Linked DNA regions of Homo sapiens: region 2 is linked to region 1. Evidence: fine-mapped expression QTL. A gene starts in region 1. The other region holds a variant in brackets. All regions are shown on one strand. Distances are from middle to middle. Region 1 holds the start of RBM19 (RNA binding motif protein 19). Region 2 has its middle 44 kb from the start of LINC01234.

The links. PIP is the estimated chance that this variant, and not a neighbour inherited with it, causes the effect.
Region 2: its variant is fine-mapped to the expression of RBM19 in cerebellum (GTEx, PIP above 0.99). The same link has a PIP of 0.9 or more in cerebellar hemisphere, prefrontal cortex, spinal cord and whole blood.

The regions. Positions count from the first base shown.
Region 1 is chr12:113,961,594-113,969,925 of GRCh38, reverse strand. It overlaps RBM19 (RNA binding motif protein 19), which reads left to right and starts at 3,601. Exons shown (of 24, transcript NM_016196.4): 1 at 3,601-3,734; 2 at 7,512-7,694. The coding sequence starts at 3,699. RefSeq lists enhancers at 3,295-3,364, 3,323-4,250, 4,251-5,179, 7,150-7,199, 7,340-7,389.
Region 2 is chr12:113,813,072-113,821,403 of GRCh38, reverse strand. It overlaps a transcript of RBM19 not described here. Among named protein-coding and RNA genes, the nearest start is that of LINC01234, 44 kb to the right of the region's middle. RefSeq lists enhancers at 1,603-2,528, 2,529-3,456. The variant A/G (reference allele first, on the strand shown) is at 4,214.

The DNA of each region.
Region 1 (8,332 bases):
CTTCCCATTGGTTCGGCCAAGGGGAGGCTCCAGTAGGAAACTGCAGTTGGGAAGAGAAAGAGGGGACAGTGTATTTATCCCCGACACACACACACCTGTGGTTCCACAGTGGCTGTATCTCTCTATAGCTCTAGTCCTTAAAGTACGTCCCTCTTCCATGGCTCCTGGCATCACTGAAGCTCAGGAATGACATGTCCTACTCTGCCCTTCAGCCCCAGGGGTGGTGATAGCTCCCCACTGTTGCCAGGCCCTGGGGTTTGGCCATCCTTTGTTGGTTCCCTTAACCCTTCCTGTATTCATTTGCTGCAGGTGCTGTCTCAAATTACCACAAATTAGATGGCATAACAATGCAAAGTTATTCTCTCACATTTCTGGAGGCCAGAATCCCCCAAAGCACCAGCAGGGCCATGCTCCCTCCAAAACCTCCAAGGGAGAACGCTTCCTTGCTTCTTTCAGCTTCTGGTGGCTCCAGGTCTTCGTTGACTTGTGACTGCATCACTCCAGACTCTACCTCCACCTACACATGACGTTCTCTGTGTGTCCTTTAAAAGGACATGTGTCATTGGATTTAGGGTCTACCAGGATAATTCAGGATGATCTCATTTTGAGACCCTTAAGTACATTTGCAAAGACCCTTGATATGGTTTGGCTGTGTCCCCACCAAATCTCATCTTGAATTGTAGCTCCCATAATCCCCACGTGTCCTGGGAGGGACCCAGTGGGAGATAATTGAATTATGGGGGTGGTTTCCCCATACTGTTTTCGTGGTAGTGAATAAGTCTCACGAGATCTGATGGTTTTATAAGGGGAAAGCCTTTCACTTGGTTCTCATTCTCTCTTTGCCTGCCACCAGGTAAGACATCCCTTGCTCTTCCACCATGATTGTGAGGCCTCCCCAGCCATGTGGAACTGTGAGTCCATTAAATCTCTTTCCTTTATAAATTACCCAGTCTCAGGTATGTCTTCATTAGCAGCGTGAGAACAAACTAATACAACACTTTTTTGCAAATAAAGTCACATTTACAGCTTCCAGGGGTCAGGATGCCCCCAGTGTGTGTGGTGGTGAGGGGACAGGGGATCATTCATCCCACTACACTGCCCACCCTTCTGTAAATAGCTTTTTGTCCAGATTTGCTTTTGTTAAATCCTTTTGAGTATACCTCTGTGTCCTGCTGACTGATGCATTTCCTTCAAAAACATTTATAGCTACATACCTACCGTTTTTTAACAACTGCATAGAATTCTGTTGAATGGACAGACCTTAATTTACAATTAGCATTTAATGAACTCCTATTACCTGTCTCCTCCTGGTGCCCAGTGTGATGCTTTGCAAAGATGGATCTAAGGATGCCCCTATGGCAACATAATGTAGAAAGAACAAGTGGCCTCATCTATAACTCTGAACCTACACTGTGCGCTCCTCACCAGCGAGTTCTGTAGGTTTATGCTGTGGCAGATGCATGAGCTCCCTGCATTTGGGGCTCAGTAGGAAAGAGGCATATTCGAGGATGCCATGTTTGAGCTGGTCTTAGAGAGGGGATGGGAATGGGTTCAGAAAGATATTCCAGTGGCCAAAAGCACATGAAAGATGCTGTTTCATTAGTTATCGGGGAAATGCAAATCAAAACATTGAGTCACCACTGTACACCCACTAGAGTGGCTATGATTATAAAGACCCAATAACAAACACTGGAGGAGATGTGGAGATATTTGAACCTTCATATACCGCTGGTAGGAATATAAAATGGGGAAGCCACTTTGGATAACAGGTTAGCAGGTTCTAAAAAGGTTAAGCATAGAGTTACCATATGATCAGGCAATCCTACTCCTAGGAATATATCCAAGAGAAATAAGAACATATGCCCACACAGGAACTTACAGGTAAATGTTCACGGCAAGATTATTCACAGTAGCCACAAAGCGGAAACAACCCAAATGTCCATCATCAACTGATGAATAAATAAAATGTAATACATCCATATATGTAATACTATTCAGCAAAAAAAGTGTGGTGGCTCACGTCTGTAATCCCAGCACTTTGAAAGTTCAAGGCAGGTGGATTGCTTGAGCCCAGGAGTTCAAGACCAGCCTGGGCAACATGTTGAAACCTCGCCTCTACCAAAAAATTACCAAAAAAAAAAAATTAGCCAGGCATGGTGGCATGTGCCTGTAGTCCCAGCTGCTCAGGAGGCTGAGGTGGGAGGATGGCTTGAGCCTGGGAGGCGGAGGTTGCAGTGAGCTGAGATTGTGCCACTGCACTCCAGTCGGGGTGACAGAGCCCGACCCTGTCTCAAATAAATAAACAGATAAATAAAGTGCTGATTCATGCTGCAACATGGAAGAACTTTGAAAACATTATGCTAAGTGAAAGAAGTCAATTACAAAAGACTACATATTGTATTATTCCATTTACATGAAATGTCCATAACAGACAAATCCATAGAGACGGAAAGTAGATTAGTGGTTATCAGAGGGAAGGGAGAGGGAGGAATTGGAAGGTTATAGCTAAAGGGTGTGGTGTTTCTTTGGGGGTAATGAAAATGTCCTAGCATTGATTGTGGTGATGGCTGCACACCTCTGTAAATATAGTCAGCACCATTGAATTGTGCACTTTAAGTGGGTGAATTGCATGGTTTGTGATAAAGCTGTTAACAATAAGAAGGGGGGACGGAATGTCTTTTAGGTGAAGGAAATTGCAGAAGCTTGGCAGCAACGTCCAGTGCAGCTGAGGCACTGTGGGGAAACAGAAAGGAAATACCGTCATTTAAGAGTGAAAATAGGGGTTTTCATAGGATGTCTCCATCCAAGAGTAGGTACCGAGAATGCTCAGAGAAGCAATAGGAAAATAACATCCCTTTCACGTTCTCACCTCCTTAACCCCTAGCATAATAAAGAATTATTCCCATTTTATAGAAGTAGACACAAAGGCTCAGAGGCCATTTTGGCCAAGATCTCTCAGCTAGAAGATTGGCCAGCTGAGAGTTCCAAACATTAGGAAGGGAGGCAAAATGCTTGTGGGGCTGGGGTTGAAGGCGTAGAGACTCATTGTAGGGCCCTAGGCAGTCCCTAGCTCGAATCTGACTTTCCAATTCATAGTTATAAGACTTTGAGCAAGCTGCTTTACACGCACGATTCCCAGTTTATCTGCCTGCAAAATGAGAGCGTTTATTTCCAACATGTTCATTCCAAGTATTTACACAAAAGGCTCAATACTTGATTTGTGTTGGCTGGCAATCTCTCTAAACTTCACTTTCCCCATTTCTACGAGGAAGGCAAGGGTCCCTAATCTTGCCCCCGTTCTCAGGGGAGTCCTAAGGCTCAATAATAAAAATAAAATAAGAAAAAGGAGAGAACGCGATTGCCCGGTTGGCGCGACCCTTAACACCGAGCTAAACCGGCGCATGTTAGGGACCGGCGCCCCCTGCCGCCTTCTCCGCTGCATTGGCGTCTCACAGAATCCGCCCAAGGCCCTGCGCCTGCGCAAAATGCAAGCGCCCAGGCCCACCCCTTGTGGGGTGTGACCTCCCTGAGTAGTTTTGGATTAGCCACGCCTACTTCCGGACAGGTCAGGCCAAGGTCTCAGCCACGTGACTGTGTTCCGGCTCGGTAAAGATGGCGGCGCCCAGGGCGGTAGCGTGAAACTTGGTGGAAGACGCTGACCAGTCGTGTTGGAATCAAAACAGCGGGGACCCTGCGCCATGTCGCGACTGATCGTGAAGAATCTCCCGAATGGGGTGAGTGCAGAGGCAGGACTTGGGAATCTGAAATGAGACCAGCCGGGAGCTGTGAGGTAGGGAAGAGATGCCTGGAGGTGATCGAAGAATTTTTGCTCTGGGGCAGGACTCCGGGCCAATTCTGAACTCAAAGGGGGCGGGATCCTGGGCTTATCCCCATTTGATCCCGAGGAAAGAGGAATAGTGACTGCTTACGGTTTCACGGCCGGTTGTTTGGTACCTGACTCCTAACACACCTCTTCTCGGGGAGATGACAACTCCCACCTTGTGGCGAATACCCTGCTCCCACAACCTCTTTCATTCGATCACTGTTTTTTAGTTGTTGACCCGGGACATGGTCCGACACTGTATTTATATTCCTCTCCCAGTCTGGAAACTGTTGGGGAAGACATGGGGAATATTAATCTGCGGACCTGCGTTCCAATTCCCACTCCCATCCTTAGGGCAAGTAGGAATACGGAGTGGGTAAAGGGCTTTACAGCATTTATCCAGTAAGTGGGGAGTGGTGACCCAGCCATACTTTTTTGTTTCCCTGGAGCCCAGCGCAGAACCCGACACGTGGTAGGCAAAATAGGTGAATGTACGTAATATTAGATGATTAGATGCGGTGGGCTCGAATGGATCATCCTTTTTTCTCTCTCTCGCTGTTTTTTGTTCTGTTTTGTTTTTTTGTTTTTAAATGGATTACTGCTCCTTCCATCAGGTTAGACAGTGTCTCTTGATGCCTCGCTTTGTGGGATGAGGATTTTTAGCGTAGCTGCACTTCCTTTCCCTCCCAAATTCAGCTTTGTTGTGTTTCAAGTGTAGTTGATTCTCTTATCATTGTTTGTCTTATCTCTTTTTTTTCTCTCTCTTTCATGGCTTTTTTTGGTTTTGTTTTTTGTTTTTTTCTTTTTTTGTTTTTTTTTTTTAAACGGAGTCTGGCTCTGTCTCCCAGGCTGGACTGCGGTGGAGCAATCTCGGCAGTCTCGGCTCACTGCAACTTTTGCCTCCCGGGTTCTAGCGATGCTCCTGCCTCAGCCTCCCAAGTAGCTGGGACTACAGACACGCGCCACCAAGCCCGACTAATTTTTTTATTTTTAGTAGAGACATGGGGTTTCGCCATGTTGGACAAGTTGGTCTCGAACTCCTGACCTCAGGTGATCCACCGCCTCGGCCTCCCAAAGTGCTGGGATTACAGGCGTGAGCCACTGCACCTGGCCCCCATTTCTGTTCTAATGTTGTGAGTTTTTTCCTTTCCTTTTTTTTTTTTCATTTGTCAGGTGGGACAAAGGAACTTTGTAACACACAGTTTTCAAAATTCAAACAGTATAGTAGTGTATAACATGAGTAGCAAAGTCTTTGCTCTGTCCTACCTTCCCTCTCTGTCCAGGAGTAACCATCTTCATTGATTTGTTTTTGGGACTCCTCACATGTATCTCTGTATATTTGAGGAGTGTACTTTCCTCCTTTTGACCTGCCTGCCCCAGTGACTATCTGCTAGGCCTCAACTGTGAAAAATAAGGAATTTAGATCATCTGTTCCTCCTCTCCAGTGTCTGTAATATTCTTGTTTTTAATTATCCTGTTATAATCTCTGAGTAGTATACTTAAAAATATCTATTACTCATCCATCCATCAGGTTAGACATGTCTCTTGATGCCTTGCTTTGTGCGATGAGGATTTTTAGCGTGGCTGCACTTCCTTTTCTTCCCAAATTCAGCTTTGTTGCACTTCACAGTGTAGTTGACTCTCTTATCATTGTTTGTCTTATCTCATGAATGAAAGAATAATAAAAACAAGGGCAGTTGCAGCTGACACTTGGAGAGTTTACTGTGTGCCAGGCACTGTTCCAGGTGCTTTAGGTAAAGTAACATTTAATCCTCACCATATCCCTGTGAGGTAAGTTTTATTTTTACGCCCATTTTAAAGGTAAAGAAACCAAGATACAGCGAGGTACAGGGATTTGCCTGAGGTCACACACTGGTGTAATTTATAGAGCAGGGATTGAATTGAGCAATCTTTAGTTTAGGGATTGAATTGAGGAAATAATTAGTAGTGAGTACTTGTGATATTGCTGACACTGTAGATAGAGGTGGATAAGCCTGTGTCCTTATTTTTAATGGGACTTGCAGGCTAGCAGAAAAGAGAGGCACCAGATCATTACGATGCAAGGTGCATCACTGACATGTGAACCGAGTGCTGTGGGAGCACAGTGAGGGTTGGTTATCTCGTCCATCTAAGGCATCTAAGAAAGGCCTCCTGGAATAGGAGATGATTGAACTGAGAATGAGGAGTTAGCCAGGGCCTGTCTTGGGAAATATCACCCAGAGGGGACAACCAAAGTAAAACCTCGGAAGTGAGAAGGCTGTGAGAAATTTGTCAAAGCGTGGTGCTGAAGAGGTTGGTCAGGGCAGATCTTGAAGAATTGCATGTTTTCCTTTAGGTGCTCGTCCTTGAGACTTTGGTGCCAGAAAGTCACCGAAAGGTTTTTGGCAAAGGAATGATGGATTCAGACTTGAGCCAGGTCTCTCCCAGGCACTGAGGAATTGAATTCACTGTCTTATATTTCTGAATTGAGTCACAAACCTTGATTCTGTAGGCCTTGGGCAGATCATTTATCCCTTATGAGTTTCATTTTCTCTATAAAATGTGGACAAAAATTCCTAACTCACAGTGTGATTGAGATTTTGATTAGATCAGTTAGTAAGAAGCTACCTCAGAAAATGTCATCTTCTGGCTGGACTGCCAAGGCCTCTAGCTTCTTGCATTTTCAAACTTATTTTGGCTGTTCGTGGGGCCCTGAATGTCCCCTCAACTCCACTACCACACACACAAATATCCCAGTATCTGCTTAGAAAACTGAGTTGTGAGGGTAGCCTGGCTGCAGTGAAGATGGTGAGAAGCCAGGAGCCTGTTTTCCATAGTGTGGGGCTTCTTGACCAAATTATAATAATAGTGTGTTAGTTTTTTAGTGCAGCTATAGCAAATTAGCACAAACTTAGTGGCTTAAACAATCCAGACAATCCTTATCTTACAGTTTTGCAGGTCAGAAATCCTAAAATCAAGGCTTTGGCAGGGCTGCAGTCCTTCTGGAAGCTCTGTGGGAATATCTGTCCCTTTGCCTTTTTTCAGCTTCTAGAAGCACCTGCCTTCCTTGGTTCATAGCTATATACTCCATATTTGGAGCCAATAGCATAGCATCTTCCAATCTTTCTGTTTCCATCTTCTCTGATCTTCCCGCCTCCCTCTCATAAGGACCCTTGAGGTGACATTGGACCTGGCTGCATAATCCAGATCATCTCCCCATCTCCATATCAGTCACACCTGACAAGTCCCTTTTGCCTTGTAAGGTAACATATCCACAGTTTCCAGGGATTAGGATGTGGGCATCTTTTGGGGGGGCTTTATTAACAAAGATATATATAGCTTACCATGCCTGTTCATTCTTTCATTTATTCCTACAAGTATTTATTAGGTATCTACTATGTAGCAGACGTAATACTGCTTCTGTAATTGGTCTTATCCTCATAGGAGCCCCATAGGGTAGGAAGATGTCATTTGCAGCCATTATGAGTCATGATTTCCACATCAGTGAGTGGTTAAGGGACTTTCTCAAGGCCACACAACTCGTGCTAGAGTCAGAGCTGGAACCTGTTGTAACTAGAAAAGTACACTCTGCCCCTCTTCATCTAAGGCCACCCTTGGAGAATCTCGTGGCCTCAGGTTTCCAGCCCATTTTGTCCCCTTGCTCTGGGGACTTTCCAGTTCGTCTCTCATTCCTTTCCCTCTGTCCTAGATGAAGGAGGAGCGTTTCAGGCAGCTGTTTGCCGCCTTCGGCACGCTGACAGACTGCAGCCTGAAGTTCACCAAAGATGGCAAGTTCCGCAAGTTTGGTTTTATTGGCTTCAAGTCCGAGGAAGAGGCCCAGAAGGCACAGAAGCATTTCAACAAGAGCTTCATCGACACATCCCGGATCACAGTGAGTGGGCAGGAGTCTCACCCTTACCTTCCTGTCAAGTGTGACGTTGTTTGATCTTTCACTCAGCACTTGAGTTCAAAGACCGTCCCTCTTCACTTTGTGATGTCTTTGGTTTTCTTCCTCACCGATTCACACACTTTCATGTGCATACAAATCACCTGAGAGCTTATTATAACAGCTTCCTGGGCCCGTCCCCAGAGCATCTGATTCAGTGCATGGAGTCAGGACCCAAGAATTCACACATCCAACAAGCCCTCAGGTGACGACCATGCTGCTGGTCTGAGGCCCACACCTTGAGAACCACAGCTCTACCTCATCCATTCACTCATGCATTTAGCAAGCACTCAATGATGCTGGGAGTTTAGAGAAAAAGGTGATGCCTCAGCCCCTGTCCTCATGGAGCCTGCTGTCTCTGGGCAGGCAGGGGGCTGACAGGTCAGCAGGCTGCTTTGGCTCAGTGACATCAGTGCTATGATAGGGTGAGCCCCAGGGACTGTGGGAGAACAAAGATCTATAGCCGGACCAGGGAGGAGTCAGGAAAGCTTCCTGGAGGAGTGGGCTCCACTCAGGTCACTCGTGTATTTAGTGACTTCGTAAAAACATCTCTAATGCTTTGTTGAGAAGGAAAAAACAGATGA
Region 2 (8,332 bases), 150 kb after region 1:
TCCTTCTGGCTGAACCTTCTGGTCTATACAATTTGTACTCACATTTCCACACCACCAGAGCCAGCAGGGATGGCTGGCTGATCACCAAAACTCAGGTGTAGACCCACGGGCCTGGTGCAGAGGCAGGCATCTTTTGGCACTGACTTAACTGGCCCAGAGGATGCTTCTAGAACCTCCCCCCAGAGCAGGATTCAGCATCATCCAGGGCTTGGTGCGGGGTGAGCAGACATGGGCTCTGTATTCGGATCTGCCTGGGCTCCGTAACAGTCCACCACTCTCCAGCCTCGTGAGCCTCGGCAAGTGACTTAACCTGCTGAGTCCTCAGTCTCCTCATCTTTAAAATGGAGTGATGCAAGTAGCATCTCCGTCACAAAAGCGTTATCAGGCCCAGGCAGCTGCAGGCCCCTGCCAGGGCTCACACAGTGAAATGATGGGAATCAGGGCTGTCCAACCCTTCCTGCGTCACTGCCTTCCCTGTGGCCAAAAGAAAGCTGGTGAGCTGGGGAAGGTTCAGGAACTGCAGGAGAGTGAAAGGTAGCAAGAGGAGGGAGAGCTTCCAGCCACTCGCCAGGCCTGGCCTGGAATTGGCAGTGGGGAGTGAGGCAGCCTAGAGGCCATATACTGAGCCTGGCCCCTGCACCCCTGCCCCAGGCACGCACTGTTTGGAAGGGGCAGATCTGTGAGCACACAGGAGTAGTGGAGTCCACTCCCACAGAGATCTCAGGGTGCCCCTTCATGCCGCGCCCACCAGACTGCACCCTCATCTCCTCTCTTCCGGCTCAGCTGTCCTCGTGCAGCCAGTGTGGCCTGACTGATCCGTGAGCTGGATCATGTCAGTCTGCAGCTTCAAACCCTCTAGGGCCTCCCTGACGCATGGAAAGTCGAGTCCCGCTGCTCACCCCAGCACCGAGGCCCCACCTCACCTGACCCTGCACTCGCTGTCCCGGCCTTCCTCCCTGCAGGCTCCCACCCCAGGGCCCTCGAGCTGCCTCTTCCCTCTGCCTGGGATGCCCTTCCCTCACATTCTTCCTGCGTGGCGCCTTTTTATTTTCCTTTGAGATCTTAAATCACGCTTGTCCAACCCAAGCTTGGGCTTTGAATGCAGCCCAACACAAATTTGTAAACTTCCTTAAATTTGCAATTTTTTTTTTTTTTTTTAGTTCATCAGTTATCACTAGTGTTATTGTATTTTATGTGTGGTCCAAGACAGTTCTTCCAGGGTGACCCAGGGAAGCCAAAAGTTTGGATGCCCCGGTTTAACTTCTGCTTCCTCACTGAGGGAGACAGACTCCTGATCAGTTCGTCTGCAGTAACCACACCCAGCTCCTCTTTACACCCAGCCCCAACCCCCTATCCCCCATCCCCTGTCCCTCTCAGTCACAGCACTCAGTACAGGGGACAACCTGGAGTGTGAGCAAGATCTCAGTGACCCAGAGCCTTTTACCCTGTCAAAAATAACTGTTTTAAACGGGAACTAGGAAAGCAATTAAGATTTTTGTTACAATCATCATCATTGTTCTAGAATGCAGTAAAGTACAGCCAGGTAGCCATAAAGCGGAGCTCGGGAAAAGTCATTTGCCTGGCCCAGAGGAGGGGCTTCATCTCTTCTTCCTTTGGAGAAGAGGGACTGGTGAAAGCGTCTTACGAGAAATTCCTCCATCCAGCATGTGGGGGTTGAACTGGGAGACTCTAAGCCTTTGAGCCAAGGCAGCAAGGGACTGAGTCACCGCTGTCACTGGGAGGGGGACACGGGAGCTTTCTGAAAGGCGGCTTCGGTTGTTTTTGAAGCAATGATGGGACGTTGGTAGACACAGACACCCAGAAGATCTGGGAGAGAAACTCCAGAAATAACCCACAGAGGTGGCACTGAGGAGGGAGCACTCCTCCAGGGCGGTGAGCCTCCTGACCCGGCTCAGGACTGACTGCTGCAGGGGGCAGGAAACTGCCTCAGCCACATCTCAGGGGGCTGTGACCCTTCCCTGCCGATATGGTCACCAGAGAGCCGGGAAAGAGAACCATAACAGGCTGGACCAGAGCACTTGCGTAGGAAAGGAGAGGTGACACCAAGAGGCCAGAGGGGCCAAAGGGACACAGGGAGGTGGGAGGTCAGTAGGACACGTGCCTCAGAAAAGCCAGAGGCACACATCTGGATGAGGCCTGTGACCCGGTGTTCAGAGTGTGGCTCAGTTAGCTGGGAGGAACGGGGACAGGCTGTTTCCAGAGTGGAGGGCTGGCTGGAACCGCATCTGCTGTCCTCACGTCCGTCTCCCACCCGCTGTGGGTCTCAGGGGCCTGGCCCCTTGAGCTGTGTCTCTGAAACTCCCTTATCAAGAGGCTTGTGTTCAGTTTGGCCAGCAGTGGGCACTAGCGGGCGCCTGGAAGGCTGGTAGAAGAGAAACTCCAGGCATCCCGCCCTCTCCCTCTGTCCCACGTGGCGTCTCCACCAAGGGTCCACCCCTGGATGGGTGAGGAGGGCCCTGGCATCTCTACTATAGGATACACACAGTCAGACTGCAGGAGGGAGATGGGTGGTCAGACAGGTCCTGGAGAACAGACAGGGGTGAGGGACAGTGGGGCCTGGAGGAGGGACAGGAGTGAGAGACAGTGGGGACGGGAGGAGGAGAGCGGAATGCACAGGCCCTGACTCCAAAGGCCTGCGTTAGAATCTCTAGGCTCTCAGTGTCTCCAGGCCTTGCGTTCCATGTCTTTCAAATGGGTGCAGGAATTCCTGCCTCATTGGATTGGTTAAGACAGAAACAGAAGGTCATGAATGGAAAGTAGTTAGCAGACTGTGTCATGCCTAGTGAGTACTTAGTAATGGTAGTTGCCATCATTATTGTGAACATAACTTCAAAACAAGGCAAGCTTGTGGGGCTGCACCCAGCAGATGTCAGGCCAGCTGGGCCCACGTCCAGAGGCTGGGGCGGGATAGGGACTCACAGGGCGCTGCGCCATGTTGGGGAGGAGCCTATGATCCAGGAAGGAGCCTGTAGGAGGTGCCCCCCTGCCCACTGGCCCCAGTAGGCAAACCAGCACCTGGCTCTTCCTGCACAGAACCAAAGTTCAAGCCCAAATGGGCCAATGGTTGTGGGGAAACAGGTGAGCACCCCCACAGGAGCAGCTGCCTGTCTATTGCTGTGTCTGTGTGTCTGTTCCTAACCCTTTCTTTTTTTTTTTTTTTTTTTTTTTTGAGACAAAGTCTCGCTCTGTTCCCCAGGCTGGAGTGCAGTGGCGTGATCTGGGCTCACCTCCCTGGTTCAAGCGATTGTCCCGCCTCAGCCTCCCAAGGCTGGGATTACAGGTATGCACCACCACGCCCGGCTAATTTTGTATTTTTCATAGAGACTGGGTTTCACCATGTAGACCAGGCTGGTCTCGAATTCCTGACCTCAAGTGATCCACCTACCTCGGCCTCCCAAAGTGTGGGGATTACGGGTGTGAGCCACCACGCCCGGCTAATTTTTTGTATTTTTAGTAGACAGGGTTTCACCATGTGGGCCAGGCTGGTCTTGAACTCCCAACCTCAAGTGATCCACCCACCTTGTTCTCCCAAAGTGCTGAGATTACAGGTGTGAGCCACCATGCCCAGCCTGTTCCTAACCCTTTCAACTGGGGGGTCTCAAGTGGGTGAGGACTCCATGGCCACGGCAGCAGAACTGTCTCTTCTGAAAACCAGACTCCGGGGCCCCTGGGTCAGCACCTCTAGGTCATTCCACAGACTTACACAGTTTAAAGAAAGAGCCAGCGAACATGGGGTGATCCTGGGGTGCCACTGGGATCCCAAGCCAGGCCCGGAGGTCTGCCTGTTTCGTCCCCAGAAACTTGAGCTGGCATCCTCCGCTGGTTTGCACTGGGCACGGGGACTGGAGAGCCACCAGGCCACTGAGCGCAGCATGCTATCACTTCTCAGGAAGTTGTGAGGGTGAGGAGAATAGCCGGGCCCACTCTGCAGAGGGGAGGAACAGGCACAGGCTAGAGGCACGGGCTGATAGAGTGAGTCCTCTCCCTCATTCATTCATTCATTCATTCATTCATCCATCAGACACCTGCTGGGCATCTGCTGTGTGCGAGACACTGTGCTGGGTGCCCCAGACACAAGACAGAAACTCGGGTCGCTCTGTGTGCCTCCACACTGGCCTTCCCTGCTGCGTGGACGCAGGCTCTGTCTCCTAGGCTTTAAGCCCCATGCATCAGGTGGAAGACAATTTCCAGC[A/G]GCCTCTGCCCGCTTGTTTTTCCTCCTCTCCTTTTCCTGCCGCCTTGGTCTTTTTTGTCTTTTGTGCAGGGCCGTCTCTCGCAGCGCCCGTCTGTGCTCCGCAGCGTCTAGGAAAGGATTAGTGTGAGCAGAGCACGCAGGCTTTGGTGAACAGAGCCGAGCTTGGTTTCAACATCTAATTCAATTTGTTCTGCCGAGATTGAAATATGAAATGGTTGCCAGTCAAACGTTCAAAGGACGGGGAAGGGAGAGTGAGCGCATGCTGAAATTTAAATTTTAATGAAAATGACTTTAACCCTTTGGTACACCTTGCAAAATGTAACCCATCCTCCCATCCTGTGAAAGCGGCCTCTCGGGTTAGAGCTTTTCCACCCACTTCTCTTCCACTGAGCTTCACTAATAATATGTAATCATTTTTTTCAGCCGTCTTAATAATAAAAGATTAATAGAATGCTTGCATAATAATAATTTATTCACCCATGCCGCCTAGGCCATTGAAATAGTCACCTTGCCTAGATGACTTTCCCAAGCCCCATCCTAGACAAGCCCCGGCCCCTCGTTAGATTCACTCGTCACACCGAACACCTCCCTAGCTCCTTACAGCTGTGAACAGTTTCTGTGTTTTTATTTCATGTCTGACCTCTCTCTCTGGACCGGAAGTCCCAGGAGAGCAAGGTCTGTGCCCATTTTGTGCGTGCTGCATCGTGGAGTAGATGCTTAGTAAATACTCGAGGAAGGAATCAGTGGCCCCACTTTGTCCTTTTAGCAACTGTGAGAGGTAAGTTGATGGGAGATGTAGAAATGGAGAGGTGGGTGACATTCCCAAGATGGCGCTGCACAGAGGGCTGCCACCAGGCTCACACTCAGCTCGCTCTGGCACAAGCCCAAGCCCCTACCTCCCCAGAGCAGTGAGGGCAGTTCCCACATGCAGGGGGCCCGGCCCTATGCTGGGTTTCAGAGGCACACCCTGTGCTCTCGCTCCTGCTGCAGGGCCTGAACTGCTGTCTCCTCTTTACAGCGAGGGCAGGCCCAATGTGTGCCAGCTCGAGCCTTATCCTCAAGGCAGCAAGAGCAGGCCCAATGTGTGCCGACTCGAGCCCTGTCCTCAAGGCGGTGTGGGTGAAGGGCTCTCTCTCCTCACCCCCAGTGAGATTCTCCTATTCAGCTCCTGCTTGCCATGGAACCCCTAGTGTGTTTTTTGTTTTGTTTTTAAATATCAAATGCCATCAGTGCCGGACCAGTGGGCATGCGTGGCAGCTCATTATGGCTGTGGACAGACAGTGCCAGGCATTGACCAGGCATCATAGGTTTTCAGGGTAGAGTGGGATGATGGGGGCAGCCCTGAGACCACCTTCAGGACAGTTGGCTTCCAAGGACTGAGTCCTTGGCTTCATCCTCCAGGGCTCATACAGACCAGGAGCGCAAGGGAGAGGTTCAAACCTGAAACACCCAGCAAATGTGTGTTGAGCTTATGTGCACCAGGCATGGCCATGATGCTGGGAATGCAGGAGTTGACACAGCAGATAAGACTCCCTGGCCTCGAGGAGCTGGTAGTCAAATGTGGGGAGACCCAGACATGAGTGGGTGGAGGATTGCTTCCCTGGCACTGCTGAGGCTCCATTCTCTCTGGGGATGTCTGGCAGGGTCAAGGAAGGGCTCCCTGAGGAGGTGGCATGTGAGCAGAGCTGGGAGGAAGGGGACAGCTCTGTGTGCTCAAGGGAGAGTGAGGGGGACAGCCCGGGCCCCAGAAAAAGCCAGGGAGAGTGGGCAGGGGCCTGCCAACCCGGCTCAGGCTTGGGTGTCAAGTCTGGGCCTGTGGAGGGGAGCAGAGCCGGCCCAGTCTGCCACCATGTTAAGGATCAATAGCAGAAGGTCAAGGACTGAAGCAGGGACAGGTGTTCAGAAGCCATTGCAGTGGCCAGGAGAGCAGGGAGGTGGTGACTCAGAGCAGGGAGGTGGCAGTGGAGGGGTGAGGTGGCCCAAGCCTGTAGACAGACTGAAAATGCAGCCAGTGGCCTAAAGGTTTGGCTGTGGGGTGTGCACAACCAAGGCTAGCGCCCTGGCTCCAGCCCAAGCAGTGGGAAGAAGGAAGCTAGTGTGCGCTGAGACCATTGCAGGAAGAGCTGGCTTGGAGGGAAGCAGGAACTGGCTTTAAACTCGGTAAGCTGTTGACTGCTAAGAGGTGGAGAACACACCGGAGGATACGTGTCTCAGGTTGAGGAGAGAGGGTTGGACCGAGGTATAACAGGAAATTATCCTTCTTTGGTTAAGAAATCTAAAAGGGGCCAGCCTCGGTGCTTCACTCCTGTAATCCCGGCACTTTGGGAGGCTGAGGTGGGAGGATCGCTTTGAGGCCAGGAGTTCGAGACCAGCCTGGGCAACATAGGGAGACCCCATCTCTACAAATAATTTTTAACATTAGCCGGCTGTGGTAGTGTGGGCCTGTGGTCCCAGCTACTCAGGAGGCTGAGGTGGGAGGATCACTTGAGCCCAGGAGGTCGAGGCTGCAGTGAGCCATGATCACACCATCGCACTCCAGCCTGGGCAATGGAGTGAGATGCTGTCTCCCAAAAAAAAAGGGAAAAAAAAAGAAATCTAAGAGTCAGCATGGGAACTAACAGCCCCGTGTAGACAGACCTGGGAAATCTCATAGCTTCAATGCTTCAAGTTAATTTTTTTATTTTATTTTTTTTTTTTTTGAGATGGAGTCTCACTCTGTCGCCCAGCCTGGAGTGCAGTGGCGCGATCTTGGCTCACTGCAGCCCCTGCCTCTCTGGGTTCAAGCAGTCCTCCCACTTCATCCTCCCAAGTAGCTGAGATTACAGGCATGCACCACTATGCCTGGCTAAGTTTTGTATCTTTAGTAGAGGTGAGGTTTTGCCATGTTGGCCAGACTGGTCATGAACTCCTGACCTCAGATAATCCTCCTGCCTCGTCCTCCCAAAGTGCTGGGATTACAGGCATGAGCCACTGCACAGGCCTCAAGTTCATTTTGAAGCCACTTCTAGATGGTTCCAAACTCCTTTGGCCCCAGAACCCGTTTCCCAAACAAATGTCTTAAACAGATTAAGCAAAACTGCTTTGTTCCAAGTCAGGGTACAGGCCTGACCTCCCCCACCCAGACTCCTCTTCCCCCTCAACACCTCAGTGATTTGAAAAACACTGACCTAGGCCTGGCGCGGTGGCTTACGCCTGTAATCCCAGCACTTTGGGAGGCCAAGGTGGGTCATCGCAAAGTCAGGAGATGGAGACCATCCTGGCTAACATGGTGAAACCCCATCTCTACTAAAAATATAAAAAATTAGCCGGGCATGGTGGCACGTGCCTGTAGTCCCAGCTACTCGGGAGGCTGAGGCAGGAGAATCACTTGAACCCGGGAGGTAGAGGTTGCAGTGAGCCGAGATCGTGCCACTGCTCTCCAGCCTGGACAACAGAGTGAGACTCCATCTCGAAAAAAAATATATTGAACTAAAAAATGTCTCCCAAAGCACAGAGCACGGACCTCTGTGCTTCAGGAGATGGTTTAGGTGGCCCACACACTTTTCTTTTTAATTTTTAACTCACAAGTTTATTTTCACATGTATGCCACAAATACAAACCTGTATTTGTTTAGGTCATCAAACCTATGGTGTTGCTAAGCTCTAAGGAATACCGGTGAATTCGTATAAAGAAAAGTATTAAAAACATGAATTTCGTGAGGCAAAGTAGTAAAGAAGCGACGTGAATGATCAAAATCAGGGGTTGGCAAACCATGGCCCTCTTTTTTTTTTTTTTTTTTTGTGCTGCTGTTGCCTGGTTTTGTGAATAAAGTTTTATTGGAATACAGCCATGCCCATTAGTTTACATATTGTCAATAGTTGCTGCATGTAACAGAGTTGAGTAGCAACAGAGACCTTATGACCTGCAAAGCCTAAAATATTTACCATCTGGCCCTTTGCATCAAGTGCAGTGACCCCGATCTAAAGCAAACCCCCATCATTTTACAGATTAGAAAGCCCAGAGTGTCTTCTACAAGGTCACACTGTGGCAGAATTCCCCGTTCCGGCTCTTTCACCTCTGCTATGCTGCCTCGGCACATGTGCTGAGTAAAACTTTATTGACAAGACCAGGCAACAGTAG